6 separate regions of the Homo sapiens genome follow, and regions 1, 2, 4, 5 and 6 are each linked to region 3. Evidence: fine-mapped expression QTL. A gene starts in region 3. Each other region holds a variant in brackets. All regions are shown on one strand. Distances are between the middles of the regions.

What was found. PIP is the estimated chance that this variant, and not a neighbour inherited with it, causes the effect.
Region 1: its variant is the best candidate, but not a certain one, in a credible set for the expression of RFWD3 in blood mononuclear cells (TOPMed, PIP 0.60).
Region 2: its variant is the best candidate, but not a certain one, in a credible set for the expression of RFWD3 in whole blood (TOPMed, PIP 0.88).
Region 4: its variant is the best candidate, but not a certain one, in a credible set for the expression of RFWD3 in unexposed skin (GTEx, PIP 0.86).
Region 5: its variant is the best candidate, but not a certain one, in a credible set for the expression of RFWD3 in thyroid (GTEx, PIP 0.64).
Region 6: its variant is the best candidate, but not a certain one, in a credible set for the expression of RFWD3 in stomach (GTEx, PIP 0.74).

What each region holds. Positions count from the first base shown.
Region 1 is chr16:74,453,078-74,458,389 of GRCh38, reverse strand. GLG1 (golgi glycoprotein 1) reads left to right here. Exons shown (of 26, transcript NM_001145667.2): 24 at 396-516; 25 at 1,635-1,741; 26 at 5,056-5,312. The coding sequence ends at 5,223. It also overlaps the pseudogene RNU6-237P. Among named protein-coding and RNA genes, the nearest start is that of CLEC18B, 34 kb to the right of the region's middle. The variant C/G (reference allele first, on the strand shown) is at 2,893.
Region 2 is chr16:74,560,232-74,565,566 of GRCh38, reverse strand. All of the region lies in intron 1 of GLG1 (golgi glycoprotein 1), which reads left to right. Among named protein-coding and RNA genes, the nearest start is that of GLG1, 44 kb to the left of the region's middle. The variant A/C (reference allele first, on the strand shown) is at 3,148.
Region 3 is chr16:74,664,451-74,669,785 of GRCh38, reverse strand. It overlaps RFWD3 (ring finger and WD repeat domain 3), which reads left to right and starts at 2,909. Exons shown (of 13, transcript NM_018124.4): 1 at 2,909-3,000. It also overlaps the pseudogene TMPOP2. RefSeq lists a silencer at 3,230-3,379.
Region 4 is chr16:74,525,933-74,531,267 of GRCh38, reverse strand. All of the region lies in intron 2 of GLG1 (golgi glycoprotein 1), which reads left to right. Among named protein-coding and RNA genes, the nearest start is that of GLG1, 79 kb to the left of the region's middle. The variant A/C (reference allele first, on the strand shown) is at 2,382.
Region 5 is chr16:74,610,844-74,616,178 of GRCh38, reverse strand. It overlaps the pseudogene HSPE1P7. Among named protein-coding and RNA genes, the nearest start is that of GLG1, 6.4 kb to the right of the region's middle. The variant A/G (reference allele first, on the strand shown) is at 2,872.
Region 6 is chr16:74,640,900-74,646,234 of GRCh38, reverse strand. It overlaps RFWD3 (ring finger and WD repeat domain 3), which reads left to right. Exons shown (of 13, transcript NM_018124.4): 5 at 1,500-1,694; 6 at 1,782-1,873. Among named protein-coding and RNA genes, the nearest start is that of RFWD3, 23 kb to the left of the region's middle. The variant A/T (reference allele first, on the strand shown) is at 1,975.

The DNA of each region.
Region 1 (5,312 bases), 210 kb after region 3:
ATAGCATATTACTCTGATTTTAAGATTTCACGTTTTCATATTTCTTAAAGTAACACAGTAATTGTATCACACCAATAAAAATATTAACGTTTAGGTATTTTAAAATGATACGACATGACATACGGGAATGCCAAAAACACAAATCTGATCTTACAGTCACTTACAGTCCCCTGCTTTTTTCCAACACACAGTTTTGTATCCCTAAAAGTAGTTAGTTACTCAATTAAATTCTGCATTCTGTACATCATCACCACCTTGCAACCTGTCCCAAAGTGGTCTCTGTTGTTAGCCCTCAACTTCCCCCCTTTTTTATTAGTATATGAAGTATTTACAGACAACAGATCTGATGCATTTCCCCTTCAAAAGCTCTGTCTGCAATGACCCTCCCTTTCCAGGAAGTGCTAAACATGCTGAAGGAAAGCAAAGCAGACATCTTTGTTGACCCGGTACTTCATACTGCTTGTGCCCTGGACATTAAACACCACTGCGCAGCCATCACCCCTGGCCGCGGGCGTCGTAAGTCTCTGTGTTCACTCTTGATCCTGTCTGAACTCTCTTGGGAAGAGCAAAGACTCCCTCTTAGACATCAGTTGCAGCTACTGTGGTCTGTATGGTCTGTAGTTGTAGCCCAGTCATAGACAACATTCCCTGGGGACCTGGGTGATGCCAAAACTAGACCTTTATGGCATCATGAATTTAGGAATAAGCCTGCGAGTTTGAACTGGCCTTGTCATGACTGGAGCTAAAGATTTGATGAACAGGGAGAATTGAGGTATTTATTAGGGAAGCAGAAGTTAAAGTCATCATCATGGTCCTTTTCCTGGTGCCGAAACTAGAAGCCAGCTTCACACACTTCCCCGGTGACGACAGTGGACTCAGTAGACAGGTTCTGTGTGAGGAGGGAGCCAAGGCAAGTGTGAGAGTTCTTTTTGAGCCACGTATACCCAATAAAACTAATAGAAGTTGTTTGTTTGTATTTTTATTTATTTTTTTGAGACAGAGTCTCACTCTGTCACCCAGGCTGGAGTGTGGTGGCATGATCTCAGCTCACTGCAACCTCCGCCTCCTGGGTTCAAGTGATTTTCCCACCTTAACCTCCTGAGTAACTGAGACTACAGGCACCCACCACCATGCCTGGCTCATTTTTGTATTTTTTAAGTACAGACAGGGTTTTGCCATGTTGGCCAGGCTAGTCTCAAACTCCTGACTTCAAGTGATCCACCCACCTCGGCCTCCCAAAGTGCTGGGATTACAGGCATAAGCCACTATGCCCAGCCTGTTTTCGTTTTAATTTTTTGAAACAAGGTCTTACTATAATGTAGTCTCAAAGTCGTGGGCTCAAGGGATCCTCCTGCCTCAGCTTCCCAAGTATCTGGGATTACAGGTGTTTGCCACCACACCTGGCTCTAAAAATAAGGAGGTTTTAAGAGAGGCTTCGGACGCCAACCCTGGAGGTTACATATCATTTCTCTCCATTGTTGGATCCTGGATCAAGTTTCCTAGTATGTATTTAACTTTGTTGAGCCTGCAGATCTGAATTCTCTGGTGGTTGTGCACCCTCTTCCTCATCTTTACAGAAATTTCTCTATTCTGTACAGTTTCAGGTTCTTCTTATTATTCATTTCCTCCCACAGAAATGTCCTGTCTCATGGAAGCACTGGAGGATAAGCGGGTGAGGTTACAGCCCGAGTGCAAAAAGCGCCTCAATGACCGGATTGAGATGTGGAGTTACGCAGCAAAGGTAATGACCAAGAGAATCTCCTTTTTTAAAAAAACAAAAAAATATGGAACACTTCACCAATTTGCATGTCATCCTTGAGCAAAGGCCATGCCACTCTCCTCGCTGTGGCTGTCCAGCCTCTTTTAGATATCGCACTGGTCTTGTCCTTATTGTGAGACTAGCAATAAGTGCGTTTGAAAACGTGGTCAGGGCCGGGCGCGGTGGCTCGCGCCTGTAATCTCAGCGTTTTGGGAGGCCGAGGCAGGCAGATCACGAGGTCAGGAGATCGAGACCAACCTGGCCAACACGGTGAAACCCCGTCTCTACTAAAAAACAGTAAACATGGTCAGTGTGCTTTTAGAATTCCTTGGCTGCCCGTGAGCCTGGAGCCGTCTCCCTGTGCATCGGGCTGTCTGCAAGGCTTTGCCAGGGCCCTCCTTTCTCATTTCGCCCACTGTTCACCGCTGAAAAGTGAGTCACCCAAAGACAAAAGAGATGTCACACCCATGGCAAAAGAAAGAAATCCAGCCTCGCCTATGATGAAGCTTGCTTTTATCATTTTACAGTCTTTAGGAGAAAAATACATATTTGAGGCCAGTACTCATCTGGTCTGGAACATGGAGAAGAAGGGGATGAAGAAAGACTGTAGGACACTCATGAATGTGTATGATACCCAGGTAGACTTGGGCTAGGGGTAATTTTTCCTACAGAGGTTCAGCCTCAGTGAGAAGAATAACAGTTCTTCTCGTGCATACATTGCTTTGTAGTTTACATAACGCTTTGGTGGACGTATTGCCTGATTTGAACTTTGAAACCCTGTGAGGTAAGTATAATGACTGTTTCGTCACTTTACAGTGAAGGAAACTGACTTCAGAGGTCACGACTTGCCCAGAGTCCCTCTGGTTTTTAGAGCCATGCTTTTGTATTGACTCATATTGGGATAGACATCTGCAGTGGCCTAAGATCAAGAGAGTAATCCCAGGACCACCCCTCCTTCCTGGCCAATTTTATCACCCTTTTACTTCCAAGTCAAGGGTAACAAGTCAAGAGGAACAATCAGAGAAAGTCTTCATAGGTCGACAGCAGGAAGGTACAAGGGAGGGCTCCTGTCTGTCACAGTAGTCAACACTCTCCTCACCCTTCTGCCAAGGGAAGAAAGTTGCCTTTAAAGC[C/G]GGTGGCTCAGGGAAGCGGCAGCAGGAGATGCTGCGTTACTTCATTCTGCCTCATTGTGTCCAGTCCTTTGAGCTGTGTATTATTGCTTCAGAGTGACTCAGAGTAATTCACGGCTTGTTTTGTGTTGGCAACTATTGGAGCTCAAATCTCATTCATCTCACGCCTCCCTACTCTGTTCTGTGTACGTGATATGAGCATAGAAACAGCCCAGATGCCTCTGGGCCACACCATCTCAGCAGCCAGGCTGGGATGCAAAAGAATGGGGACATGTGCACCTGGGGACCCTTTTGGTCCTGATTCTGCCATAGCAGGCTACCATCAAGGTCCGTTAGGGAAAGCAGTGGAAAACTGAGGATGAAAGATAGCTGAGGTTAAATTATAAATGTCCACAAGTGGAGGGCGGTTAAATATATTCTGTCAATATAAGTCTTGTTTGCGGTGCAGTGGTGTGAACATGGCTCACTGCAGCCTCGAACTCCTGGGCTCAAGTGATCCTCCTTGAGTAGCTGGGACCACAGGTGCACGCCACCACACCCAGCTAATTTTATAATTTTTTGTGGAGACAAGGTCTTGGCTATGTTGTCCAGGCTGGTCTCGGCCTGCACATTGTTTTTGATGTGGGAAATGCTTATGATATAATGGTGAATGAAAAAAGTCAAAATACAGGCTGGGTGCAGTGGCTCACACCTATAATCCCAGCACCTTGGGAGACCGAGGCAGGAGGATCACTTGAGCCCAGGAGTTCGAGACCAGCTTGGGCAACATAGGGAGACCCCATCTCTAACAAAAAAAAAAATTTTTTTTTTTTTTTTTTTTTTTTTTTTTTTTTTGGGGACGGATTCTCGTCCTGTTGCCCAGGCTGGAGTCCAGTAGTGCAGTCTTGGCACACTGCAACCTCCGCCTCCCGGGTTCAAGCAATTATCCTGCCTCAGCCTCCCCAGTAGCTGGGATTGCAGGCGAGCGCCACCACGCCCAGCTAACTTTTGTATTTTTAGTAGAGACAGGGTTTCACCATGTTGGCCAGGCTGGTCTTGAACTCCTGACTTCATGGTCCACCATCTCAGCCTCCCAAAGTGCTGGGATTACAGGCGTGAGCCACCATGCCTGGCCAAAAAAAATTTTTTAATTAGCCAGGCATGGTGGTGCACTTGTAGTCTCAGCTACTCAGGAGGCTGAGGTAGGAGGATCCCTTGAGCTCAGGAGTTTGAGGTTGTAGTGAGCTGTGATCGCACCACTGTACACCAACCTGGGCAACAGCGCGAGACCCCAACTCAATGAAAAAAAAGCCAAAATATAAAATTTAGAAATAATATAGAATTTACAAGGCCGGGCGCAGTGGCTCATGCCTGTAATCCCAGCACTTTGGGAGGCCGAGGTGGGCGGATCACGAGGTCAGGAGTTCAAGACCAGCCTGCCCAACACAGTGAAACCCCGTCTCTACTAAAAATACCAAAAAAATTAGCTGTGCATGGTGGCGTGCACCTGTAGTCCCAGCTACTCATGTGGGTGAGGGAGGAGAATCGCTTAAACCTGAGAGGTAGAGGTTGTGGTGAGCTGACATCATGCCACTGCACAATGCCTGGGTAACAGTAAGACTTTGTCTCAAAAAAAAAAAAAAATAGAATTTACAAAATATAGAATATGTAAAACGATGTCAACTTTTATCTTTGTTTTTTAAAGAAAGGCAGCAAACGCATTTAAAGAGCATAAACCAAAAGATAGAAGAACCCATGGCCTTATAGAAGTCATTTAACCACACTCACCCCTGGGCACTGATTCTCCATCCAGAGTATGGGAGTGGTGAAATCTGCTTGCTAGGCTTGGTGTGAGTGCTAAATGAGTGAGGGCAGGGGGAGCCCTTCGTCCAGGGCCCGACACATCTTCAGTGTCCTGGTGTTAGTGGTGATCACTGTGATGGAATTGTGGGTGACTGCACCACTTTGTCTCTTTCTGTATTTCTAATTTTGTGCAGTAGACGTGTGTATAGTTTTATGATCAGGAAAAAGAGTTGTAGCTCTGTGTTGATTTTTCTTATCTCCTGCCCTCCCTCTCCAAAAGAAAAGACATAAATTAAACTAGGAACTGAGAGGGATAAGTTAGACCTAGCACTGCCACCAGCCCAGTGCTCTCTCAGAGAATCACATTGCCTTGTGTCATTCTAGGTGGCCCCAGCAGATGGCTTCTCTGATCTTGCCATGCAAGTAATGACGTCTCCATCTAAGAACTACATTCTCTCTGTGATCAGTGGGAGCATCTGTATATTGTTCCTGATTGGCCTGATGTGTGGACGGATCACCAAGCGAGTGACACGAGAGCTCAAGGACAGGTAGAGCCACCTTGACCACCAAAGGAACTACCTATCCAGTGCCCAGTTTGTACAGCCCTCTTGTATAGCATCCCCACTCACCTCGCTCTTCTC
Region 2 (5,335 bases), 100 kb after region 3:
GTTTAAGCAGTTGGCGGTCTATGAGTGAAGTATGGCTGCTGTGATTGGCGGAGACTGAGTTACTTGTTACAGGAGTAGGTTGCAGTTTGTTTTCTCTTCTAGTCAGGTTACAGTTCCCTATGTACTGAGAAATCTTTAGGCCCGAACTTAAAATATGTAAGAAGGCAGCTTTAGGCTAACTTTAACAATTCCCCTCTTTGGTCAACCTCTCAGTTTTGTTTTGTTATTGTTGTTGTTTTTGAGATGGAGTGGCTCTGTTGCCTAGACTGGGGTGTAGTCATAAAATCTCGGTTCACTGCAACTTCTGCCCCCTGGGTTCAAGTGATTCTCATGTCTCAGCCTCCCAAGTACCTGGGATTATAGGCGTGTGCTACTGCACCTGTCTAATTTTTATATTTTTAGTAGAGACAGATTTCACCATGTTGGTCTTGAACTCCTGACATCCAGTGATTTGCTCATCTCAGCCTCCCAAAGTGTTGGGATTACAGGCATGAGCCACCCCATCTGGCCTCAATTTTGTATTGTTTGTCAATTTTGAGAGGTTGACAAAACTTTAGGCATCCATAAATGTACTTATTTGATCTCAAATCCAACTGGGAGGTAACAAAACTGGCTTTTGCAAGGTGGGGAACAAGGACTTCAGGTTAGTTTTCTGTAGGGATTAGAGCAGGGGCAACCTCCTTATGCTGGGATCTCTTGTTTTTAGGAAAGGAATAAAAAACCTGGGCTGTTTGGGATCTTTCTGCTTCCTTAAAGTTTCAATTTGATGATGTTGCATTTAGCATGAGTGACTTCATTTAGGTTTGATCTGGTCTAGCCTATTGATGCCTAGTGAATAAGCTTAATCCAAAACAGTGGGCTCTCACAATTTTGTTTAACAGCTTCGCCTTTTTGGTCAGGTTCTCACTTGGGTGTGAGTGTTACTGAAACTTAGGGCTTTAGTGCTACTCAGTTACCATCCTTTTGGGTTTCCAGTCCTAGCACTTTATTCATAGGTTTTGGTGTCCTCATGATCATGCATGTCTTTGAGTGTTTATCATTCCTGCTGAAGAGAGACCATTTGAACTTACATAGATGGCTGCATGCAAACATTTATAACTTTTGAGAGAATATAATGCAGCAGGGAGACTGCTATTATGACTGTTAGGAGGATAATACTAAGAGTTTGGAGTATGCTCCTTAGCCAGAGTTCGCATGAACCAAACCAACTAAAATCAAATAGATCAAAGAATGAGCAAGATAAACAATCTACTCATTTCAACCAAGCAGCCAGTTCATTAATCCCCTACAACTGAATCTCTGTAATATCCAGTATATTCATCCACGTGCAACAAGAGGTGTCAGCAAGGCCTGGTATGATGGCTCACACCTGTTAATCCCAGCATTTTGGAAGGCCGAAGCGGGAGGATCCCTGAGGCCAGGAGTTCAAGACAGCGTAGGCAACATAGCAAGACCCTGTCTCTACAGAAAATACAAAAATTAGCCGGGCCTCGTGGCACATGCTGGTAGTTCCACTACTCAGGAGGCTGGGTGGGAGGATCACTTGAGCCCAGAAGGTTGAGGCTAAATGAGTCATGATTGAGCCACTGCAGTCCGGCCTGGGTGACAGAGCAAAAACCTGTCTCAAAGAATAAAAATAAAAGTGTCAGCAACTTCACAGATACTTCCCTGATTAGCCAGTAGGCAACCTTGAGCAATTCTGTTATCCAGTAGACCTTTAGCAAGATAATTTAAAGAAGTCTGTTTTGTAACCATAGCCTTTGCAGTAGAATCTGCTATGGAGCATATCATGAGGAACAAATTTCTTTTTTTTTTCTTTTTCTTTCTTTTTTTTTTTTTTGAGACAGGGTCTCACTCTGTTGCGCAGGCTGGAGAATAGTGGCGTGATCTCGGCTCCCTGCAACCTCTGCCTCCTGGGTTCAAGCAGTTCTCCCACCTCAGCCTCGCAAATAGCTGGGACTACAGGCACACGCCACCACGCCCCGCTAATTTTTGTGTTTCTGCTAGAGACAGAGTTCCCATTTTGACCAGGCTGGTCTTGAACTCCTGACCTCAAGTGATCTGCCCACCTCAGCCTCCCAAAGTGCTTGGATTACAGGCATGAGCCACTGCGTCCAGCCCATGAGGGACAAATTTCTAGACACTGTATCGTTTACTCCAAACTCTGGAAAAAGTGACCTAACAATGAAGGCCATTCAGAATGATGAAGGCTTCCAAGCACTAGTGTTCTTTTTCACCTCTGATGTAGGTTAAAAGGAGTGGACCAGTGTTCTCTTTCTGACAGAACCATTAAAATTCCTAACCCACATTGGACTGTCATCTTTCATCCATTAAGACATAATGCTGCCTATGGATAAGGTTGGCTGTAAAAGTTTTCACAAATAAAAGTGTGCCCCATTGGTGCACCATAAGACCCCTTTTCTGTTGTTCATAGAGGCATAAACAAGGAAAACATTGAGAGGTAAGAGTCTCATGATGACAGAGAAGTTTTGATCCATGCTTTTGGGAAAGCTGTCCATGTCTAGGGTGCCATCTGCTTCTGGGGGAAAACCTTTTCTAACTGGTTAGCTTTACGTTAAGATTTCCAATGGGTGTACAATTCCAAGTCTGGAGGGGCCCTCCTGCATTGTGATATCAATTGACCCAGTGTTTGAGGCCCCAGAGTTTTGCTTCATTGTGGGTAACAAGGGCAGTGTTTTCCTGACGTCATTTCCAGAAGAACCAACCTCCAGGTTCTAGATTGTGAAGGATTTGAATGTCCTCAGTGGGTGGGTCATGAAAAGCTTCCTTTACTGCCAGCACGGTAGCTCATGCCTGTAATCTCTACACTTTGGGAGGCCGAGGTGGGCGAATCACTGGAGGTCAGGTCTCTGGAACCCAGGAGTTCAAGACCAGCCTGACCAACATGGTGAAACCCCATCTCTACTAAAAATACAAAAATTAGCTGGGTGTGGTGGCGCATGCCTGTAATCCCAGCTGCTTGGGAGGCTGAGGCACAAGAATTGCTTGAACCCGGGAGGTGGAGGTTGCAGAGAGCTGAGATCACACCACTGCTCTCCAGCCTGGGCAACAGAGTGAGACCATCTACAGAAAATAAAAAAAAGAAAAGCTTCCTTTAGCTGGTGAAAATACACTTTGGTATAATGC[A/C]TTAAAGGCTTGCAGCATTTATTCATATCAGAGTTTGGGAGAGGAAGATACATGAGGTTCTATTATTAGTGGCATAGGCCTTCCAGTGACTATTTCATAATGAGTCAACTTATATTTTCTACTGGAAGCAGATGAGGTTGTCATCAATCTGCAATACCTTTGACCAAGGCAACCAGTCAATTCAGTTAGCTTCACCTAAAGCTGTTGTGTCTGTAATACCTTACTTAACTGTTTACAACTTGTCCAGTGAAACAAGTACCACTATCACTGGAGATTTCTCCAGGAATGCCCCGTGAGGGAAACACATTTTCTGACAACCTTTTAGCTACTGTTATAGCATCAGCCTTCTTGCATGAGAAAGCTTTTACCAGAAAACGTGTTGAAAATGACAGTTGAATGAAATTCCTCTATAAGTGTTCCAATGACCCATCAGGTAGCTGAAGTTTTAATTATCTTCCCAGGTTGTAGGTTTGATAAGCCAAACCTTGGTCATAAACCATTTTTAGCGATTTAGAGCAGTCACCACACCAATGTATATGTTTTCTATTTGGATCATTTTCTGTCTTCCATGATGAGTCATGGAGTGCAGAGCTTTTAATAATGGAAGATTTACGGATTCAGGAAGGACCAGGTGGCTGTGCAGGATCTCTGTGATTCCATGCTTAACATTGCATTTATAGCCTGTTAAATACCAATTTTGTATCTCCAATTCAGGTGCATAGCACTGTTCATTAAATGGGTTATCATAGGTAATTTGACTTGGAACATAGAGTTCATTCAAGTTGCATATCTTAACAGTTTTAGTACTGGCTGATTTAGCATGAAAATCTGGCAGAGTATTTTTCTTAGTATTCAGTTAATTTTTGTCCTGCTTGGGTTAGCAGTTTTATAAACCAGTCTCTTTATTAAAGTTCTGGGAATTCTTACCCAGTCCAAATTAGATGAGCCTAAAGTTATCAGAAACTTGTATTCAGTAGTGCTTATTAGGGTCCTTTCCATTACTTTCCATGAACGTTCTTGAAGACATAATGCTCTAGGATTTTACTTGGTTGTAAAGAGCTTAAAGAAAATGCATCCGTATAAAGCAATTAACTGTGGAAACAAAATGATCATGGTTAAAGACATAATTGACAAGAAAATTTGGTTGTGGTCATGAAGGGTGTGAGGGTGCAGGCCTAGGTGCCAATATTGGGGGCAGGGACCTCAGCCTTCTGAGGCTACTCACAGGCATGCTGCCCCCCATGCCCAGCTCTGACACCAGCAGGAGGAAGGTGCTGGCTGCTGCAGGATCCTGGCTTGCTGCCTGTTGGCCCCGATCCTGCCCCATCCCTCCAGCTGGGCACCCCCAGGTGCTGCCATGCAACCAAGCAGGACTGTGCAGGACTGCGCAGGACTGCGTGGTGCCAGACTATATCTCTTCTAAAAATTCATTCAATTTGAAATAACCTTTAAATAACTTTTTTTCTCAGCAAACACATATTTTTATGCCTTTATAGCTTTCCTTACAAAAACATATCTTACTTTCTTTACATATTCTATATACAGAATTGCTTCTCTCTTTCCTTCCTTCTTTCCCTCCCTTCCTCCCTTCTTTTTTTCTTTCGAGATGGGATTGCTGTGTTGCCCAGTCTGGTCTCAATCAAACTCCTGGCTTCCAGAGATCCTCCTGCCTCAGCCTCCAAGTAGCTGGGGTTACAGGCCTAAGCCACCATGCCCAGCTCAGGTTTAATTTTTCTTACAATTAGTTGCTTAAGCTTTGCCTTTTATAAAGAGTTTTTAGGGCTAGGCGCAGTGGCTCATGCCTGTAATCCCAGCACTTTGGTAGGCTGAGGCAGGCAGATCACCTGAGGTCAGTTCAAGGCCATCCTGGCCAACATGCTGAAACCCATCTCTACAAAAATACAAAAATTAGCTAGGCTTGATGGCAGTCAAGTTACTAGTTACTGCGGGGGCAGGGGGGCGGCGGGGGGAGGCTGAGGTGGCAGAATCGCTTGAACCTGGAAGACGGAGGTTGCAGTGAGCTGAGATCGTGCCATTGCACTCCAGCCTGGGCGACAGAGTGAGACTCCGTCTCAAAAAAAAAAAAAAAAAAAGACAAAAACTGAGGTCCCAATTCAAAGCAGTTAGGAGGAAATCCCCCCTTTCTTTGATTCTGGAGTCCTGGGGGAGCTTCAGCCTTTTTGTTCTA
Region 3 (5,335 bases):
GTAGGAGTTACAGTGAAAATTCTCCCTGGTAGATGAATTATTCATACTCTGGCAGACCCACAATTATTATAGGTGAATTTACTATAAGCCTGATAAAGCTTAATCTTCAGGGCCTTTTACTTGCACAGGATGCCTTCCAAGGCCCTGTACCTGATTTTTCCCAACACTTATGTATGAAAATTTCCAGATACACAGAAAAGTCAGTACAATTGTACTCTGAACAACCATATACCTACCACCTAAATTCTACAACTAACAATTTATTATATTTGTTTTATCACATACCTATTTATCTGCTTGTGCCTCTTTCTAGCCATTAATTCATCCTGATTTTTTATGCACTTCATTCCTAAACACTTCAGCATTTATGCCATTAACTGGAGTTTATCTCTCTATGAGCTTTTTTTTGGCGGGGGGGTGGGAAGGTAAGTTTTTGCTGTGAAAAATTTGTGTGAAATGCACAAATCTTAAAGATAGCATTTGATGAGTTTTGACAAATGCATACATATGAGTAATCCAAACTCTATCAAGATCATGAACATTATGGCCGGGCGCGGTGGCTCACGCCTATAATCCCAGCACTTTGGGAGGCCAAGGCGGGTGGATCACCTGAGGTCAGGAGTTCAGGACCAGCCTGGCCAACATAGTGAAACCCCACCGCTACTAAAAATACAAAAATTAGGTGGGCGTAGTGGCACGTGCCTGTGATCCCAGCTACTCAGGAGGCTGAGGCAGGAGAATCACTTGAACCCAGGAGGTGGAGGTTGCAGTGAGCCGAAATCATGCCATTGCACTCCAGCCTGGGCAACAGAGCGAGACCCTGTCTAAAAAAAAAAAAGTTCTAGAGCTAAAAAAGATTATTCATATGGCACAAAGTGATCTCCTACTAGTCCAAAGTTCAAAAACATTTTAATAAAGTCCATTCATATATCTTTTGTTTGCTTTCCAATGGAATACTACGTTTATTGAGGCAAAATCACATTATTTTTAGTTCTTGGAGTCAAAAAGCGTACACGAATGTTCTTCAACACAGTTACTAAAAATACAAGACCAAGTTGAATGTGCCAAAGAGATACCATTCAGTTGGGTTTTCTAGAGTCATCAGGAAGAATATTAGAGAAGGGATTTACATGGTTGGTTTCCATAGCTTGATAGACCAAACACACACAAAAAAACTGCCACAACAACAAACAGCAAAATTTTTATCCATACAGGAATGGAGCGTCCCTTTTTTTTGTATTTTCTCACTTGACGTCTGCCAAGGGAACATACTTAGGAACATATGTAGATGAAAACGACTCCTCCATCCTCAAATCACTGAGTTCTAATGGCCGGCCTGCAGCTCCTTTGATTGTTCTGCGGCAACTAGCACTAATTCTTGTTGGTGTAGTTGCTTCATAGGGGAACATTTCCTTAAGAATATCCCTTTCTACTCTTCTTTCCTGTGTTTTTTTTCTCCCACTTCAGCTCTTGTCAATGGTTTCTTTGGTGTTCTTCTGGGTATGTCTGAGAATTCAGTGACTGGCAGAATAGGAAATGCATGCTTGAAATTTCCAGTCACCCTATTGACAATTAAGGATTCGTTGTTTGAAGCAATTATAGTTTCAGCTATGGGAGTACTCGCTGAAATTACTGCTCCATCTATACGAAAATATTCTGAAGCGTGCACCCTTTTGCTTGGAGTTCTTCTTGACCCTCTTGTAGATTCCCTAGTTAATAATGCCTGCAGAGGTCCGCCTTTTGAAGATCCACTTGTCCATTCAGTCCCAGTTATTCCAGCTTGAGAATAGCTCTCCTTGTGCTCAACTCTTCTTTGCTTGAGGGTTACTGGAGTCTTTACTCCCCTGTTTAGCGGTTCTCTCTTCTCAAACTTGAGCCCAATTTAGAGTCTTCTTCATTTTCACCATATCTGTCAGAATCATTACTTCCATTCTGCCTTGTATTTTCTGCTGAAGAAGAAATTGTTGCTGAAGGAGACGATCTTGATTCTGTTCCTTGCTCCCTCAGTTTCAAAAGCTATTTCTCATACAGCTTCCTGGTTGTTCCCACAATAGGACCACAATTCACTCCGTATTTCACAAGCTGATCCAAAGGATCTTCATTAGTGAGTTCTGTTACATCTAGATCGTCTTTATCATCTTGTCTGGGTTTATCAGTTTTCTTTGTGGCTTTCCTGCCGGCGGCGGGCTCGGAGCCGAGACGGCTGTGGGCTCGCGCTCCTCGTACGTAGCTGGAGAATTCCGGGGGCCCCTTTCTTTTGGCGCTGGCGGCGAGCGGCGGCCCTAACAAGTGATTTGAGACTGTTCAGTAGCTCAGATCCCTTGCAGCGGTTTGAGATTGAAGAGATTATGTAGGCAAAGTATTTTGCGTGAGCTCTTCAACCCCATGAGAGGATACATATGAACTGGACTGTCCTACGCCTCTTTACAGGCTCCGAAATTCAAAATATTGAAATATTTTGAAATTATTCGATTAGCTGCTATCCTTTGGATACAGATAACTCCTTCACTAAAGCGTTAGGGATAAGCAGCAGGAGTCAGTTTTAATATCATCATCCCCATTCCAAAATGGACCGAGAAATCATATAACTTTCTCCCGCCAGAAAGTTCAAATAAAACGCGCTAAAAAAAAAAAAAAAAACCAAACAAAAAAAAAACAAAAAAACCTCCCATTTTTTCCGGGGCGGGTGCAAGGTGACGGACGTAGATTCCTGCCAATTGTAGGAGGCTTCCTCAAGCGCGGTCCCGCCTCGTCAGGACGAACTACCAGCCAATGAGAGCACCGCTGCTTCAGCTATCGGGGGACCCATTGAAGAAGAAGAGTGGGTATTGGCCACAGCGTAGGGCTTCTGTCCAATAGGAGCATGCCTGCCGGCGGCTCTGGCGGGAGCTTGAGCGGCTCCGGAAGTGGCAGTTGGCGTAGGTGCATTCGGAGTGCGGCCGAGGTAACTACCGAGTCTTCGGCGGGCTCGCGAGCCCGGCCGCGGCCTGCTGGTTTCAGGTGAGGAGGGGTGTTGCTTCTCCTCAGGCCTTGGGCCTCTAGCTTCGGGATAAACCTCCCCACGCCTGATTCCTGGATTGGGATTCAGGAGACACCCCACGAGGTGGGCTGCACGCGGGCTTGGAACCCGGCGGCCTGAGGGGATTCGGGCCCTCGGGGCGGCGCCAGTGGTCGGGGCTAAGGAGCCCGAACCCCCGCGCGTATCTGGGTTGCTGGGCGTGGGGGCTGGGCAGGCGAGAGCTCGGGGCGATCACTGAAGGAGCCGAGTTCGCTGCTGCGGGGCCTGCCCTGGCCGGGGTGGGAGGTCGCCCGGCCCTTCCCCCGAGAGCCTAGCCTCGGGCTCCTCAGCGGCGTTGCCTGCGCCCGCTCTGAGCGCCGATTACTTCATCACTTTAAAGTTGATGGAAGAACTTCATTTTTAATTTCATCACGGAAACTGTGGAGTAAAGACTTGTATTATCCCTGTTTTACAGGAGAACAAGTTGAGCCGAGTTTAGGAAACCCGCCCAAAGTTTCCCCATGTAGTAAAAGAACAGGGATTTAATATCTATGTATCTAATCAATCTATCTATCTATCTATCTATCTATCTATCTATCTATCTAATCTGTCTATCTAATCTATCTATGTCTTTCTTTCCCCATGTAGTAAAAGAACAGGGATTTAATTTCCTTCTTTCCCTCTCTCCCTTCCCCTCCCGTCTCCCTCTCCCTCCTCTTCCCCCTCCGCCTCTCCCTCTCCCTCTCTCTTCCTCCCTTTTTCCTGTTATAAAGAGAAAAAGGTGTTATAAAGAGAAAAGCGGTGGCTCAGGCCTGTAATCCCAGCACTTTGGGAGGCCGAGGCAGTCGGATCACCTGAGGCCAGGAGTTCGAGACCAGCCTGACCAACATGGAGAAACCCCATTTCCCAGCTACTCGGGAGGCTGAGGCAGGAGAATCGCTTGAACCCGGGAGGCCGAGGTTGCAGTGAGCTGAGATCACGCCATTGCACTCCAGCCTGGGCAACAAGAGTGAAACTCCATCTCAAAAAAAGAAAGAAAGAAAGAAAGAAAAGTCTCCCTGTTGCACCCAGGCTGGAAGAGCTCACTGCAGTCTCGAACTCCCGGGCCCCAGGGATCCTCCCACCTCGGCTTCCCGCAATAGCTGGGACCACAGGTGCGCGCCACCACGCCCGGCTCATTGTTTTATTTTTCTTTTTTCTTTCTTTTTTTGAGATAGAGTCTCGCTTTGTTGCCCCTGCTGGAGTGCAGTGGTGCGATCTCGGCTCACTGCAACCTCTGCCTCCCGGGTTCAAGCGATTCTCCTGCCTCAGCCTCCCAAGTAGCTGGGATTACAGGCATGCGCCACCACACCCGGGTAGTTTTTGTATTTTTAGTGGAGACGGGGTTTCACCATATTGGCCATTCTGGGACTCCGACCTCAAGTGGTCTGCCCTCGGCTTCCCAAAGTGCTGGGATTACAGGTGTGAGCCACCGCGCCTGACCTGTTCTATTTTTCTTTTTTGGTAGAGATGGGAATTTCACTGTGTTGCCCAAGCTGGTCTGGAACACCAGAGCGTAAGTGATCCATCCGCCTGGGCATTTCAGTGTCCAGGGATCACAGGCGTGACCCTCTGCACCGGCCAGAGCAAAGATTTGAACACTTCCCCCGCCCACCTCTTCTCAACCTTTAATTGAGGGGCTTTCGTCCTGCCTGTTGTGGCCATTGATTGAAACCTGAGTAACAAAGATGACAAGTCTGAGGTTGACATTTTAAGCACCGCTCACAGCACACATAAAAAACAGCGTTTGTGTGACATCCTCAAGGTTTGGGGTGCCCAGCCCATGGTCTCTCGTTCTAGGCACCTCCGACTGGCCTACAGTGGTTAGGAAGCTTCAGCTCCAGAACTGCACCGTTCCATAGAACTTTGTGCGACGAGAAAAGTGTTCTGTATTTCTGCTGTCCAGTATGGGAGTCACCCGCCCTATGTGTGTTTCTAGCAGTTGAAATGTGACCTGCACGACAAAGGAACTTATTTTATTTCTTTCTTTTTTCTTTTTTTAGACGGAGTCTTACTCTCTCTCCCGGTCTGGAGTGCAGTGGCGTGATCTCGGCTCAATGTAACCTCCACTCTCCGGGTTCAAGGGGTTCTCCTGCCTCAGCCTCCCAAGTAGCTAGGACCACAGGTGCACACCATCACGGCTGGCTAATTTTTTTGTATTTTTTGTAGAGACGGGGTTTTGCCGTGTTGCCCAGGCTGGTCTCCAACTCCTGGTCTCCAGCTACCTGCCTCAGTCTCCCAAAGTGCTGGGATTATAGGCGTGGGCCACAGCTCCTGGCCGAATTTGATTTTTATTTA
Region 4 (5,335 bases), 140 kb after region 3:
AGTCACTCTATCACATTATAGAAGGTAGATGGGACCGGAGGCTGTATAAGCAGAGACAGATTGGCTATTTAGGTTAACTACTTACTCTTACGAAAACCTAGGTAAGTCAAGTACAAAATAAAACTAGAAGAATACTAGAAGATTAGAGGGAAGGCTTTTCTAAATATGACACAACCCCAAATGATGTTTTAAAAATATATATCTGCATCTATATCTGATTACATTGAAAGTTTTCTCCCCAAAAAATGTTTTGTAAAAAAGTATTCACAATGCAGATGAAAAGGACTATATTTGTTAATAGAAAATGCTATTAATAAACATAACAGACATGAATAGAATGTTCACAGGAAAAGAAAAAGGTGTCCAATAAACAGTAAAAAGTTTATTCTCCCTCAGAATCAAAAGCATAAAAATTCAGCAAAAAATGAGTGCACTGTTGTCATCCATTTGATTAGCAAATATCAAAAATTTGATAAATGGGTTCGCACCTGTACTCCCAACTACTCGGGAGGCTGAGGCTGGAGGACCCCTTGAGCCAGGAGTTCGAGGTAGCAGTGACCTACGATCACAAAACTGCACTGCAGCCTGGGTAACAAAGTGAGCCCCCCATCTCTTAAAAAGAAAAAAAAAAAAAGGATAAATACACAGTATTGATAAGGATGTGTGTATTTAAGCATTCTCTAGCCCATAGATCAAAAAACTACAACACTTAGGCCAAATCCAGTCTACTACCTGTTTTTATACATAAAATTTTATTGAAACAGCCACACCATTTATTTATGTATTGCCAGTGGCTGCTTTTCACACTAGGATGGCAAAGTTGAGTAACTGCAACAGTGACTACAGTTCCCTGAGAACTGTTACTTTCTGGCTCTCTGCAGAAGAAGTTGGCTGAACCCTGTTCAAGCCTATGTATGGGAATAAAAACAAGCTATAAAACAGTCAACCTAAAATGCATATGTTTTGACCCAGCATTTCTACTTCTATGAATTTATGGATAGTTAAAAGAATGGATAGAGATGTGTCTATAAAAGGATATTTGTTGTGGCATTATTTATAAAGCAAAGGATTAGGGGAAAACCTCAAAATCCATCAATAGACTGAATCTGACAGAAGAGAAACCCAGAAAAAAGTTGATGTGTGCCTTGGAACTCTCAAAGAGCCAGCCGGGCGCAGTAGTCCACACCTGTAATCCCAGAATTTTGGAAGGCTGGGTGGATCACCTGAGGTCGGGAGTTTGAGACCAGCCTGGCCAACATAGTGAAACCCCTCTACTAAAAATAAAAAAATTAGCCAGGCGTCGTGGCACACCCCTGTAATCCTGGCTACTCAGGAGTCTGAAACAGGAAAATCGCTTGAACCGGGGAGATAGAAGTTGCAGTGAGATCGTGCCACTGCCCTCCAGTCTGGGTGACAGAGTGAGACTCCGTCACAAAAAAAAAAAAAAAAAAAAAAGAACTCTCAAAGAGCCAAGGAATAGGAAGGATACGATACTGCTGAAAATGGGGGACAAATAGTATCCAAAAAACAGGAGATTTGGTGGAAGGTCTATGTAAGAAGCAGTCAGGACTCTTTAGAGAACAATTATATAACCCAGAAATTCTATAATATAGCCATTCATAATGTCCCGCATGCTATCAGAAATGGCTGGATATGAGAAGAAGCAGGAAGATATCAAGAGATAAAGTAGCCAACAGAGAGAGATCCAGAGAAGAGGTAATTCATATATTGGAATTATTAATAGCAGACAAGGACTTCAAATAACTAATAAAATAGAGGAAAATAAAATATTTTCCTATAAATAAAATAGAGGAAAATAAAATATTTTCCTATAAATAGAGGAAAATTAAAATGGATGAAAATATGAAGTATTTCAACCGAGAATTAGTCTTTATTAAGAAAATCAATTAGACATTTTTGGACTAAATGTAATTTCAGAAATTAAGAACTTATGGGTAGTTTTAAAAGACAGCTTTAGTGGACATAAAAACAGATTCATGGCCAGGTGCGGTGGTTCACGCCTGTAATCCCAGCACCTTGGGAGGTCAAGACAGGTGGATTACTTGAGGTCAGGAGTTCGAGACCAGCCTGTTCAACACGGTAAAAAACCCCATATCTACTAAAAATTACAAAATCAGCTGGGTGTGGTGGCAGGTGCCTGTAATCCCAGCTACTCAAGAGACTGAGGCGGGAGAATTGCTTGAATCTGGGAGGTGGAGGTTGCAGTGAACCACTATCGTACCACTGCACTCCAGCCTGGGCAACAGAGCGAGATTCTGTCTCAAAAAAAAAAAAAAGGCAGACAGAATGGGATAGAAGCAGTATTCGAAGAAATAATGGCCAAGATGTTTTCCAAATCTAATGAGAGGCATTAACCCATA[A/C]ATTCAACGAACTTAGTGAACCTCAAGAGAAATCCATACTCACCTAACAATTTTTTTTTTTTTTTTTTTTTTTTTGAGACAGAATCTCGCTCTGTCACTGAGGCTGCAGTGCAATGGTGTGATCTCGGCTCACTGAAACTTCCGCCTCTGGGGTTGAAGTGATTCTCCTGCCTCAGCCTCCTGAGTAGCTGGGATTACAGGTGCCCACAACCACGCCCAGCTAACTTTTGTATTTTTAGTAGGGACAGGGTTTCACCATGTTGGTCAGGCTGGTCTCGAACTCCTGACCTCAGGTGATCCACCCGCCTCGACTTGCCAAAGTACTGGGATTATAGGTGTGAGCCACCACACCTAGCCTAGACACATTATTAACAATCTGCCAAAACGAAAAGATAAAAAGAAAACTCAACAAGCAGGCAGAGAAAAAGAGACATTCTCTTGAGGGAAGGAAAATGACAGCTGGCTTCTCAACAAAGCAAGCAGTAGAAACTAGAGCAAATGAAACAATAAATGTAAAATGCTGAGAGAAAATGCCAACATGGAATTCTATATCCAGCAAAAAATACCCCTTTAAAAAATGAAAATAGGCCAGGCACCGTGGCTCACCCCTGTAATCCCAGCATTTTGGGAGGTAGAGGCAGGCAGATCGCTTGAGGCTAGGAGTTGAAGACCAGCCTGGCCAACATGGTGAAATCCTGTCTCTATTAAAAATACAAAAATGGCCAGGTTTTGTGGCTCACGCCTGTAAACCCAGCAGGCAGATCACTAGGTCAGGAGATCGAGACCATCCTGGCTAACACGGTGAAACCCCATCTCTACTAAAAATACAAAAAAGCTAGCCAGGTGTGGTGGTGGGCATCTGTAGTCCCAGCTGCTCGGGAGGCTGAGGCAGGAGAATGGTGTGACCCTGGGAGGTGGAGCTGGCAGTGAGCCGAGACTGCACCACTGCACTTCAGCCTGGGTGACAGAACGAGACTCCATCTCAAAAAAAAAAAAAAAAAGAATTAACCACCGCACCTGTAATCCCATCTACTTGGGAGGCTGAGGCATAAGAATCACTTGAACTGGGGAGGAAGAGGTCGCAGTGAGCTGAGATCCCGCCACGGCACTCACCCCTGGCCGACAGAGCAAGACTCTATCTCAAAAAAAATAAAATAGGTGTTATCAGACAAGCGAAAGCTGAGAATATTCATCTCCCACATTTGCACACTGTGAGAAATCCTAAATTCTTGAAGGTAAAAGGATCACAAATTGAAGCAGAGAAGTAGGAGCACTAGAAGAGAAAAATAATTGATACGTATGACTATTATTCTTTCATGCTTTAAGATAACTGACTTGGCCAGGCGTGGTGGCTCACGCCTGTAATCCCAGCACTTTGGGAGGCTGAGGTGGGTGGATCACCTCAGGTCAGGAGTTCGAGACCAGCCTGGCCAACATGGTGAAACCCCATCTCCACTAAAAATATAAAAATTAGTTGGGTGTGGTGGTGCACACCAGTAATCCCAGCTACTCAGGAGGCCAAGGCGTGAGAATCACTTGAATCTGGGAGGTAGAGGTTGCAGTGAGCCGAGATAGCGCCATTGCACTCCATCCTGGGCAAAAAGAGCAAAACTCCATCTCAAAAAAAAAAAAAAAAAAAAAGAACTGACTTAAGCCAAAACAATAACAGTATACTTTCAGATTATAACATGTAGAATAAAATATATGACAACAGTAGCACAAAGGGTGGGTAGGAATAAAAATATAATTTTACTTTGGAATATTCTTATATTGTGTATGAGGTAGCATAATATCAATTCAATTTCGACTGTGACCAAGTTAAGGATGTATAATCAGGATACAGATTTGTTTCACATAATGATTGTTCAGTTAATGGTATTTAGCCATCATGACCCTTACAGGTTGATAGCACTTTACCCAAAACACAGATTATGCCCTGAGACATTATTGTTCTAAGCAAATTTGCGTGTAGCGACTTACTCAACACTAGTCAGACTATCACATGGAACAAATTTGAATTCTACCTCATAGTTAGGAGTGCTAAAGGAGTGATAGCAGGAAGTGATCAAGTAGCATCTTCTGTTCCTCTTCAGTGTGTCTTGCACATACAGTATTTCTCCATGTCAAAAAGTGGTTTTTGGTGTTGGTTTTGTTTTGCTTTTTGAGACAAGGTCTTGGTCTGTCACGCAGGCTGGAGTGTAGTTGTGTGATCACGGCTCACTCCAGCTTCAGTCTCCCAGGCTCAAGTGATCCTCCCACCTCAGCCTCCTGAGTAGCTGGGACTACAGATGCACACCACCATGCCCTGCTAATTTTTGTATTTTTTGTAGAGATGGGGTTTCACTTTGTTGCCCAGGCTGACCTCTAACTTCTGGGCTCAAGCAATCCAACCTTCTCAGCCTCACAAAGTGTTAGGACTACAGGTGTAAGCTGCTATACCCGGCCCAAAGTGTATTTTTTAAATCTCAAAGATTCATCTACAGGTAATGTCATGAATCTTTCCACATCAGTTTTTTCTAAGTGCCAAAGTTCTAAGGAAAAGAATTACCATAAAATATGTCTTCATACTGATACTGAATGCCTGCCTCATAGTCAGTCATCTGATTTTACATTACTTTCCAGAGAATGATTCCCTCATACCCTGCCTTTACCAACCATCACCAACTCTCAAGTCTTCTCTTTCTCCCTTGGAGAGTACAATGACCTTCCATTATGTTATATTTTATGTACAAGTTATATTTTACTTTAAAACTGTTTGTTACTTATATACTATTTTCATTTTTCAATTGATACTTCTCTCTCGGAAAATTGTTTGGGTATCTGGCCAGCCTGAATAACTTCTATTTATTTATTTATTTATTTTTGAGATGGAGTCTTGCTCTGTCTCTATTTTGTAGAGATGGGGGTCTTGCTCTGTGGCCCAGGCTGGTATCCATCTCCTGGCCTCAAGTGAT
Region 5 (5,335 bases), 54 kb after region 3:
GATCTTGGCTCACTGCAACCTCCGACTCCTGGGTTCAAGCGATTCTTGTACCTCAGCCTCCCAATTAGCTGGGATTACAGGCGCCTGCCACCACGCCCAGCTAATTTTTGTATTTTTAGTAGAGACAGGGTTTCACCATGTTAGCCAGGATGGTCTCGATTTCCTGACCTCATGATCTGCCCCGCTTAGCCTCCCAAAGTGCTGGAATTACAGGCATGAGCCACTGCACCCGGCTAATTTTTGTATTTTTAGTAGAGACTGGGCTTTACCATGTCAGCCAGGCCAGTCTTCACCTCCTGACCTCAGGTGATCTGCTCGCCTTGGCCTCCCAAAGTGCTGGGATTACAGGCGTGAGCCACCACGCCCAGCCATGCTATGCCTTTTATATGAAAGAGATTCTCTAGTTAAAGAAGTTACTCAGATGTGGTGACCTTGAAAATGAGCCTCTCAGATCTCCAGCTGTGGGGAACATGATTGACCTCTGTTTGATCTGCTGAGCACTGAAATCTACAACTGCATTCATCCCAAGGATCCTCCTAGTCTTGACTAAGAGTGATAGGGCTACTGACGCAGGCCCATTTCTGGAAGACTCAGTGACAGGTAACTTTTGCATGAGGACTATCCTATGGCCTTGGCCAACTTTCTTTTTTTTTTTTTTTTTTTGGAGACGGAGTTTTGGTCTTATTGCCCAGGCTGGAGATCTTGGCTCACTGCAACCTCCGCCTTCTGGGTTCAAGTGATTCTCCTGCCTCAGCCTCCCGAGTAGCTGGGAATACAGGTATGCACCACCATGCCCGGATAATTTTTTGTGTGTTTTTAGTAGAGACGGGGTTTCTCCATGTTGGTCAGGCTGGTCTCGAACTCTCGACCTCAGGTGATCTGCCTGCCTTGGCCTCCCAAAGTGCTGGGATTACAGGCGTCAGCCACCGTGCCGGACCTTGGCTGACTTTCTTAGAAATGAATTTCAGTTTAAGTTGAGTCTTAGATGTTTCCACCGAATCCTCCCGTCCTTCCTTCCCTCCCTCTGTACTTCACACAGTGTTGGACCAGCATCATGGTCACATGGCTCTCTCAGCCACCTCATTTTTCCTACAACTGTTGCCCCTAATAAATTTCTTGCATAGGTAATCCCCTTTTGTTGTCTGCTTCCTGGCAGACCTGGACTCACACAAGTAGTGCCAGGAGTGTTCCAAGAAAACAGGTGGTAAGACGGGGCTGACTAGGGCCCCAGAATAATAAAGACCCGGTGGCAATGTTTAAGTGCCAGAAGCCAGGAGACCACAATTACCACCATTACCAGCAAGATCAAAGGTGATGACCAAGGGCCAGATGCGGTGGCTCATACCTATAATTCTAGCACTTTGGGAGGCCGAGGCAGGAGGATCACTTGAGGTCAGGAGTTCAAGACCAGCCTGGCCAACATGGTAAAACCCTGTCTCTACTAAAAACACAAAAATTAGCTGGGCGTGGTGGCACACGCCTGTAGTCCCAGCTATTCGAGAGGCTGAGGCCGGAGAATCTCTTGAACCCGGGAGGCAGAGGTTGCAGTGAGCCGAGATTGTGCCACTGCACTCCAGCCTGGGTGACAGAGCAAGACTCCATCTCAAAAAATAATAAGAAAATAGCGACCAAGGGGTCTTGACCAGCGGGGAGTATAGAGATGGTTAATAAAGGATAACATCACCCAAGACCAGCAAGGGAACTATTCAACATCTATAGCCAATAAGGTCCACAAGAATGGAGGAACAGGAGGCTAAGGGTGGTCACCCCCAATAAGTCATGCTCCTTTGCCCAGCTTCTAGAGCTGAGGCTTTTTTTTTTGAGATGGAGTCTCACTCGGTCACCCAGGCTAGAGTGCAGAGGTGTGATCTTGGCTCACTGCAACCTCCACTTCCCAAGTTCAAGCAATTCTCCTGCGTCACCCTCCTGAGTAGCTAGTACTACAGGCATGTGCCACCACACCCAGCTAATTTTCGTATTTTTAGTAGAGACGGGGCTTCACCATGTTGGCCAGGATGGTCTTAATCTCTTGACCTCATGATCCGCCCACCTCAGCCTCCCAAAGTGCTGGGATTACAGGTGTGAGCCACTGCTCCCTGCCCAATCTGAGCCAATTTTCAGATCCAGAATCCATTGATGAAAGTGGTGGCCAGGAGCCTAACACCAAAGACCCTACAACACCATGGCAGCCGTACCATGGCACAAGGGCCCTCAGGCCTTCCCCAGAGGAACTTGTGGCTACTTACTTGGGTGACTGTACATTGGCAAAAGGGAAGTAACCGAACATTTTCAAGACTATCGGACACAGACTTCAAGGTGAAATCAATCATTAGAGGCCAAAAACATCATTATAGCCCCCTGGCCTGTAGGGGCCAGGTAATAAATGGACTCCTGCCTAAAGTGGTAAGGTATGGCTCTCAGCTCACTGGATGTGTGGACCCACCCAGAGATTTACATAGTCCCCAAATGTATAACTGGAAATGACCTGGAATAACCCCACATTGTATTTCTGGCCTGTGGGGCAGGGACTATCATGGGCAGGAAAGGCCAGATGTAAATCTGTGAAATTGCTCCCTACCCGTGGCTAAGATTGTACGTTAAAAACAATGTTCCAAGGCCAGGCTCAGTGGCTGTAATCCCAGCACTTTGGGAGGCCAAAGTGGGCAGATCACCTGACGTCAGAAGTCCAAGACCAGCCTGGCCAACATGGTGAAACCCCCGTCTCTACTAAAAATACAAAAATTAGCTGGGCGTGGTGGCAGGCTCCTGTAATCCCAGCTACTCAGGAGGCTGAGGCAGGAGAATCGCTTGAACCCGGGTGGCAGAGGTTGCAGTGAGCCGAGATCGCGCCATCGCACTCCAGCCTGGGGA[A/G]CAAGAGCGAGACTTCATCTCAAAAAAAAAAAACAAAAAAAACAAAAACAGTGTTCCGAGAGTACAAGTCTGAGGTGGAGGGAGTCATGGCAGGACAGGCGTTTAGAAAGTTTCTTCCACTCGGCCAGGTGCTGTGGCTCACGCCTGTAATCCCAGCACTTTGGGAGGCAGAGGCGGGCGGATCACAAGGTCAGGATATCGAGACCATCCTGGCTAACACGGTGAAACCCTGTCTCTACTAAAAATACAAAAAATTAGCCAGGCGTGGCAGCGTGTGCCTGTAGTCCCAGCTACTCGGGAGGCTGAGGCAGGAGGATGGCGTGAACCCGGGAGGTGGAGCTTGCAGTGAGCCGAGATCGCAGGACTGCACTCCAGCCTGGGCGACAGAGCGAGACTCTGTCTCAAAAAAAATAAATAAATAAAAAGAAAGTTTCTTCCACTCTTTGAGCGAGTACTGGTTGAAAGGAGCGCTGCTGAAACTGTAACCAGAGGAGGCATTATGCTTCCAGAAAAATCTCAAGGAAAAGTATTGCAAGCAATAGTAGTCGCTGTTGGATCGGGTTCTAAAGGAAAAGGTGGAGAGATTCAACCAGTTAGCATGAAAGTTGGAGATAAAGTTCTTCTCCCAGAACATGGAGGCACCAAAGTAATTCTAGATGACAAGGATTATTTCCTATTTAGAGATGGTGACATTCTTGGAAAGTATGTAGACTGAAATAAGACACTATTGAAAATGGCAGCAACATGAAGCTGCCCATTCCACTGAAGTTCTGAAATCTTTCTCAAAGTGCTGGGATTGCAGGCGTGAGTCACCGCACCCAGCTGAAATCTTTCATCATGTAAATAATTTCCATCTCTCTCTCTTTTTTCTTTTTCTTTTTTTTTTTTTGTGACAGAGTCTCGCTCTGTCGCCCAGGCTGGAGTGCAGTGGCGCAATCTCGGCTCACTGCAGTCTCCACCTCCCGGGTTCACGCCGTTCTCCGTTCTGCCTCAGCCTCCCAAGTAGCTGGGACCACAGGTGCCTGCCACCACGCCCAGCTAATTTTTTGTATTTTTAGTAGAGACAGGGTTTCACCATGTTAGCCAGGATGGCCTCGATCTGCTGACCTCGTGATCCACCCACCTCGGCCTCCCAAAGTGCTGGGATTACAGGCGTAAGCCACCGCACCTGGCCTCCATATCTCTCTTTTATAATAAGCTCATGATAACTAATCACAAAAAAAAAATGTTCCATTGGGAGGATGGGGATTGGTGAAGATTAGAGCCACCATTACAGACCTAAAGAATGCAAATGTGGTTCTGAAAGATGGTGGAGAGTGAAAACTTTTCCAAACTAGTGGAAATGCTGGCTGTGCTCTTAGTCATTCCACTTTGTATGTAAGATGAGAATATATACAGATTCCTGGACAAAGTCCAATGGCCTGGCCTGGAGTAGAGGCATGTGGATGAACGTGTGGGGGTGAGTACAATATATAAAGATTTTTGTATCTCTTAATAATGCCCTCCAGAAAGCCTCCACCATAGAAGAGGCACTGAGCAACCAAGTAAGCAAAATGACACAGCCAATTCACATGAGCTAGCCTCTAGCTCCTCCTGACCCGACATTCTGGGCACGTGAACAGAGCAGCCATAGCAGCAGACATGCAGGTTCCATGTGAGCTCAGTAGCATGGACTCCCACTCACCAAGGTACATCCAGCTACTGCTGCCCCTGAATGTCCAACTTGTCAGCAACAGAGAGCAACACTGAGTCTTTTTTTTTTGGAGACAGAGTCTTGCTCTGTCGCCAGACTGGAGTGCCCTGGCGCAATCTCGGCTCACTGCAACCTCTGCCTCCTGGGTTCAAGCGATTCTCCTGCCTCAGCCTCCTGAGTAGCTGGGATTACAGGCGCACGCCACCACGCCCAGCTAATTTTTGTATTTTTAGTAGAGACGGGGTTTCACCGTGTTGGCCAGGATGGTCTCGATCTCTTGACCTTGTCATCTGCCCGCCTTGGCCTCCCAAAGGGCTGGGATTACAGGCGTGAGCCACTGCGCCCACCCTGCAACACTGAGTCTTTGATAGGCACTGTTTTTTTTTTTTTTTTTAGACCGAGTCTCGCTCTGTTGCCCAGGCTGGAGTGCAGCGGCGTGATCTCTGCTCGGAGCTGCAACCTCCACCTCCTGGGTTCAAGAAGTTCTCCTGCCTCAGCCTCCGAGTAGCTGGGATTACATCCATGAGCCACTGCGCCTGACCCCCTTTTTTTTTAAATTTTTTAATTTTTTTATTTTTCTGAGACAGGATCTCACTCTGTCACCCAGGCTGGAGTGCAGTGGCATAATCTCAGCTCACTGCAACCTCCACTTGCCGCTTTCAAGTGATCTTCCCGCGTAAGCCTCCTGAGTAACTGGGACTATAGGTTGCACCATTATGCCCAGCCAATTTTTGTATTTTTAGTAAAGGCCTGACCTCAGGTGATCCACCC
Region 6 (5,335 bases), 24 kb after region 3:
ATGGCTAATTTTTTAAATTTTTAACAGGGACAAGGTCTTGCTATGTTGTCCAGTCTGGTTTCAAACTCCTGAGCTCAAGGAATCCTCCTGCCTTGGCCTCCCAATAAGCTGGGACTGTAGGTGTGATTACTACACCTGGCCTGCTTGGAACAATCTTATATAATTATCTTAGAATATATTTGTGACTGGCTGGGCATGGTGGCTCACGTCTGTAATCCCTGCACTTTGGGAGGCCAAGGCGGACGGATCGCGAGGTCAGGAGATCGAGACCATCCTAACTAACACGGTGAAACCCCGTCTCTACTAAAAATACACAAAATCGGGCTTGGTGGCAGGCGCCTGTAGTCCCAGCTACTCAGGAGGCTGAGGCAAGAGAATGGTGTGAACCCAGGAGGCGGAACTTGCAGTGAGCCGAGATTCTGCCGCTACACTCCAGCCTGGGCGACAGAGCGAGAGTCTGTCTCAAAAAAAAAAAAAAAAAAAAAAAAAGAAAATATTTGTGACTATGATCATGGGCTGCATAATAGTTCAGTCTATGACAGACCACATGTATGATGGTTGTCCCATTAGATGATAATACCAGGCTGGGCGCAGTGGCTCACACTTATAATCCCAGCACTTTGGGAGACCAAGGCGGGCGGATCACTTGAGGTCAGGAGTTCGGGACCAGCCCGGCCAACATGGTGAAACCCACCACTGTGCTACAGTTGCCTACAGTATTTGGTACAGTAACATCCTATACAGGTTTGTTGTCTAAGTATGTAATAGTTTACACCGTCTAGGTTTATTTAAGTACCTCTGGGATCATTCAATGACGAAATCGCCTAAAGACGCATTTCTCAGAATGTATTCCCATTGTCAAGCAATGCATGACTATATATCCATGAGGTATCTCTAGCAGAGAGATTGCTATGCCAAAGGAAAGATATATGTGTTTTAATTTTCATGGATAATGCCAAATGGTGCTCCAGAAATGTGTGCCACTTTACATTTAAGGCAACAGTATATAAGCATGTCCATATCTCATTTACCCACAACAGTGCTTGGTGTCATCAGACATCAATTTATACCAGTCTGATAGATGAAAAATGGTCTCTTTAATTTGCATTTCTTTAATTATAAGCAAACACTTATTGACCATTGTGTTTTCTTGTAAGCATTTGTATCCTTTGTTTTCTTTTTTTGCCCTCTGGTACACATGAGTTAAATATTTTATAGCTGCTATTCTTTATATGGATAGCTGCTTTTCTTCCTTTGAGTGAAGGAAAAAGTATCCAAGAATTTTATAAGATTTAAGAGTAGTATAGTTTTCATAGCTTATATTTTGTGACATTGCATTCTAGAAAGAATGACAAGTGATTCATAGGTGTTACAAGTGTTCTGTAGCCCTTTTGATTGTATCATTTTTTTTGCACTTCTGTTAATTTCTTAGTTGCACATCTTCTTCAAGATTGATTTTACATTTTCTCTAATTTGAATATATTCTGCTTTCCATCTAGCCATCTCCCCAGAAGTCTGAGCCTCTGCTACCTTCTGCTTCTATGGATGAGGAAGAAGGGGACACTTGTACAATATGTCTGGAACAGTGGACCAATGCTGGGGACCACCGGCTCTCAGCATTACGCTGTGGGCATCTCTTTGGGTATAGGTGCATTTCCACGTGGCTTAAAGGACAAGTACGAAAATGTCCCCAGGTAAGGACCATAGGTAAGGACACATTAACATGTTAAGTCAGGCAGATTCCTAGAACCACTCTAATTATGTCCTATTGGGTTCTTTAGTGCAACAAGAAAGCCAGGCACAGTGACATTGTCGTCCTTTATGCCCGAACCCTGAGAGCTTTGGACACTAGTGAACAGGAGCGCATGAAAAGGTAGGTGGTAAGAGTATGCCTGGCTGGAATGTTCCCTTTTGGTTCATTGTAGGCACATCTGAAAAAGAAGTTATGAGTCACTCGTAGTGAGGTTTTACTTG[A/T]CCTGTGACTTGGGATCTCTGGGGATCATTGGCAGTCTGTCTTACACTGTTATTTATAATTCATGTCTGATCATCTTCTTAAGGAAGTCTGCATCGTTTGCCTTATGTAGAGCATTAAACACAAGGATCTGGCACATTACTTCTGTTGCCATTTTTGCTTCTCATATCCCTGACCACCCCCCGCCACAGCAGTTCTCCATACAGAAAACTCATAAGTGAAGCTTTGCACATGCAGTGCAATGTAAAAAATTACCAGGATTTCGGAAGCACAAAACAGTTGCTAGGGCCGGGCATGGTGGCTCACGCCTGTAATCCCAGCACTTTGGGAGGCCAAGGTGGGCAGATCACAAGGTCAGGAGATCAAGACCATCCTGGCTAACACGGTGAAACCCCGTCTCTACTAAAAAATACAAAAAAATTAGCCGGGCATAGTGGCGGACGCCTGTAATCCCAGCTACTGAGGAGGCTGAGACAGGAGAATGGCGTGAACCCGTGAGGCAGAGCTTGCAGTGAGCCGAAATTGCACCACTGCACTCCAGCCTGGGCGACAGAGCAAGACTCCGTCTCAAAAAAAAAAAAAAAAAAAAAAAACAGTTGCTAGTAACACCACTCAGTATATGCTTCAAAAATATTAAAGAACATACACACCATTGAGAGAGAGGTACAGTGACATGGGTTCACACTTTACTGGTTTGGATGTACACAGGCAAAATCATTTTGAGACATCCTTGGAAATGTGTCTCTAAAGCCTTTGATCTAGTAATTGTTCAGGCATTCTAAAGAAACATTGAAGGCTGTGTACCAAGATTTACTTAATGAAACTTCATTTAGCATTGTTAAAAATCTAAGGCAAGGGGATTGCTTAGTTGAATGAACGGTGGTGTATGCATGAACAGAATACAATGTTGAAATGTGCATATGTTGTCCTGTGGAAGCATGTTATTAGTATGATTGCATTTTTGTGAACTAGAAAAAAAGTAAGGCTGGTGCGGTGGCTCACTCTTGTAATCCCAGCACTTTGGGAGGCCAAGGCAAAAGGATTGCTTAAGACCAGGAGTTCAAGACCAACCTGGCCAACATAGATCCTATCTGTATTTAAAATTTTTTTTAAAAGAAAGAAAAAAAGCTCTATAGGTAGTCACTGTACAGATTATTTTAGTTTTCTTCCTTGTTTTTACTCATTTGGTCCAACCAATGCTCACTTGTAGCGTTTTTAAATAATGGAAGATGTGTACAGAGAGGAATTTTGTTGAAAAGGCAAAATCTATACGTGTGGCTGTAATGGGTGATTATATTTAAAAACAATTCACTGATTACAATAAGGAATTAGTATACTCTCCAGCCTCATTAGAAAAAGTGAAGAGTTTCAAAATGCCGATACAGACTAATAAAACGAACAGCCTTTTACCCAATTTTATCAAATCTTAATGTTTTGCCATATTGCTTTGAGCCTTTTTGAAAATAAATAGGCTGGGTGTAGTGGCTCATGCCTGTAATCCCAGCACTTTGGAAGGCCGAGGCAGGAGGATTGCTTGAGACCAGGAGTTTGAGAGCAGCATGGGCAACATTGTGAGACCTTGTTTCTAATAAAAATGAAAAAAATTATCCGTGTGTAGTGGTACACACCTGTAGTCTCAGCTACTCAGGAGAGAGGATTTCTTGAGCCCAGGAGGTTGTGGCTGCAGTGAGCTATGGTCATGCCACTGCACTCTAGCCTGGGTGACAGAGTAAGAACCTGTCTCAAAAAAATAAAGATAAATCTGTTGACCAGGTCAAGAAGGAAAAAAAGGAAAGAAAATTTTAAAGAAGAAGAAGTTAATTATAGATTCAGTAGAAGGGCCAGGCACAGTGGCTCACACCTGAAATCCTAGCACTCTGGGAGGCTGAGGCAGGCAGATCGCCTGAGCTCAGGAGTTTGAGACCAGCCTGAGCAGCATGGCAAAACCCCATCTTTACTAAAAATACAAAAAATTATCCGGATGTGGTGGTGCGTGCCTGTAATGCCAGCAACTCGGGAGGCTGAGGCACGAGAATCGCTTGAACCTGGGAGGCGGAGGTTACTGTAAGCTGAGATTGCGCCACTGCACTCCAGCCTGGGCAACAGAGCAAGACTCTGTGTCAAATTTAAAAAGGTACACTAGAAGTCTTCCTGTGAACTAAGTTCTTAATTCCATAGAGAACTACTTTCATGAATTAGGTGTTCAGCATTCCCAAGAGTTATTATGTATTTGATTAGCTATATATGTATTTGTAAATTATACATAGTATGATATAGAAAGTTTTGTTTTGGTTTTTGGTTTCTTTGGTTTTTTTTTTTTTTTTTTTTTTTTTTGGAGACGGAGTTTTGCTCTTGTTGCCCAGGCTGGATTGCAATGGTGCAATCTTGGCTCACTACAACTTCCCGCCTCCCAGGTTCAAGCAATTCTCCTGCCTCAGTCTCCCAAGTAGCCGGGATTACAGGCGCCTTTCACCATGCCCAGCTAATTTTTTTTGTATTTTTAGTAGAGACAGGGTTTCACCGTGTTGGCCAGGCTGGTCTGGAACTCCTGACCTCGTGATCAGCCTGCCTTGGACTCCCAAAGTGCTGAGATTACAGGCGTGAGGCACTGCACCCGGCCAGAAAGTTTTTATACTGTATGCAAATGTTATGTTAGATTATAACTTTTTCTTCTGTAGCTTGCTTTTTTGCTTAATTTTATGCTTTGGGAGTATATCCTAGTTGATACATGGGACTCTAGTTTTTTTCATTTCAATTTCTTGATAATATTCTAGTTCTCTAGTCAAAATTAATCTGTTTAGGCCAGGCGTGGTGGCTCACACCTATAATCCCAGCACTTTGAGGGGCTGAGGTGGGCGGATCATCTGAGGTCAGGAGTTGGAGACCAGCCTGGCCAACATGGTGAAACCCCATTTCTACTAAAAATACAAAAATTAGCCGGGCATGGTGGCACGCACCTGTAGTCCCAGCTACTCGGGAGACTGAGGCAGGAGGATAGCTTGAACCCAGGGGGCAGAGGTTGTGGTGAGCCGAGGTCGCACCATTGCACTCCTGCTTGGGCAACAATGGCGAAACTCTGTCTTCAAAAAAAAAAAAAATTATCTGTTTGTGTTTTACATTGGTAGACATTTAGGTTGTCTCCACTTGTTAATATTAGCCATGCTGCAGAGAGGTCTAGCAATGGAATTGCTTTATTATAGGGCACATTTAATTTCAGCTTTACCTAAATATTGTCAAATTACTTTTCTAACTTAAACTTTTCTTGTTTAAAAAAAAAGGAGAGATTTCTCATTTTTTCATACCTTTGTGAATTTTATTTATTTTGAGACAGAGTCTCGCTCTGTCGCCCAGGCTGGAGTGCAG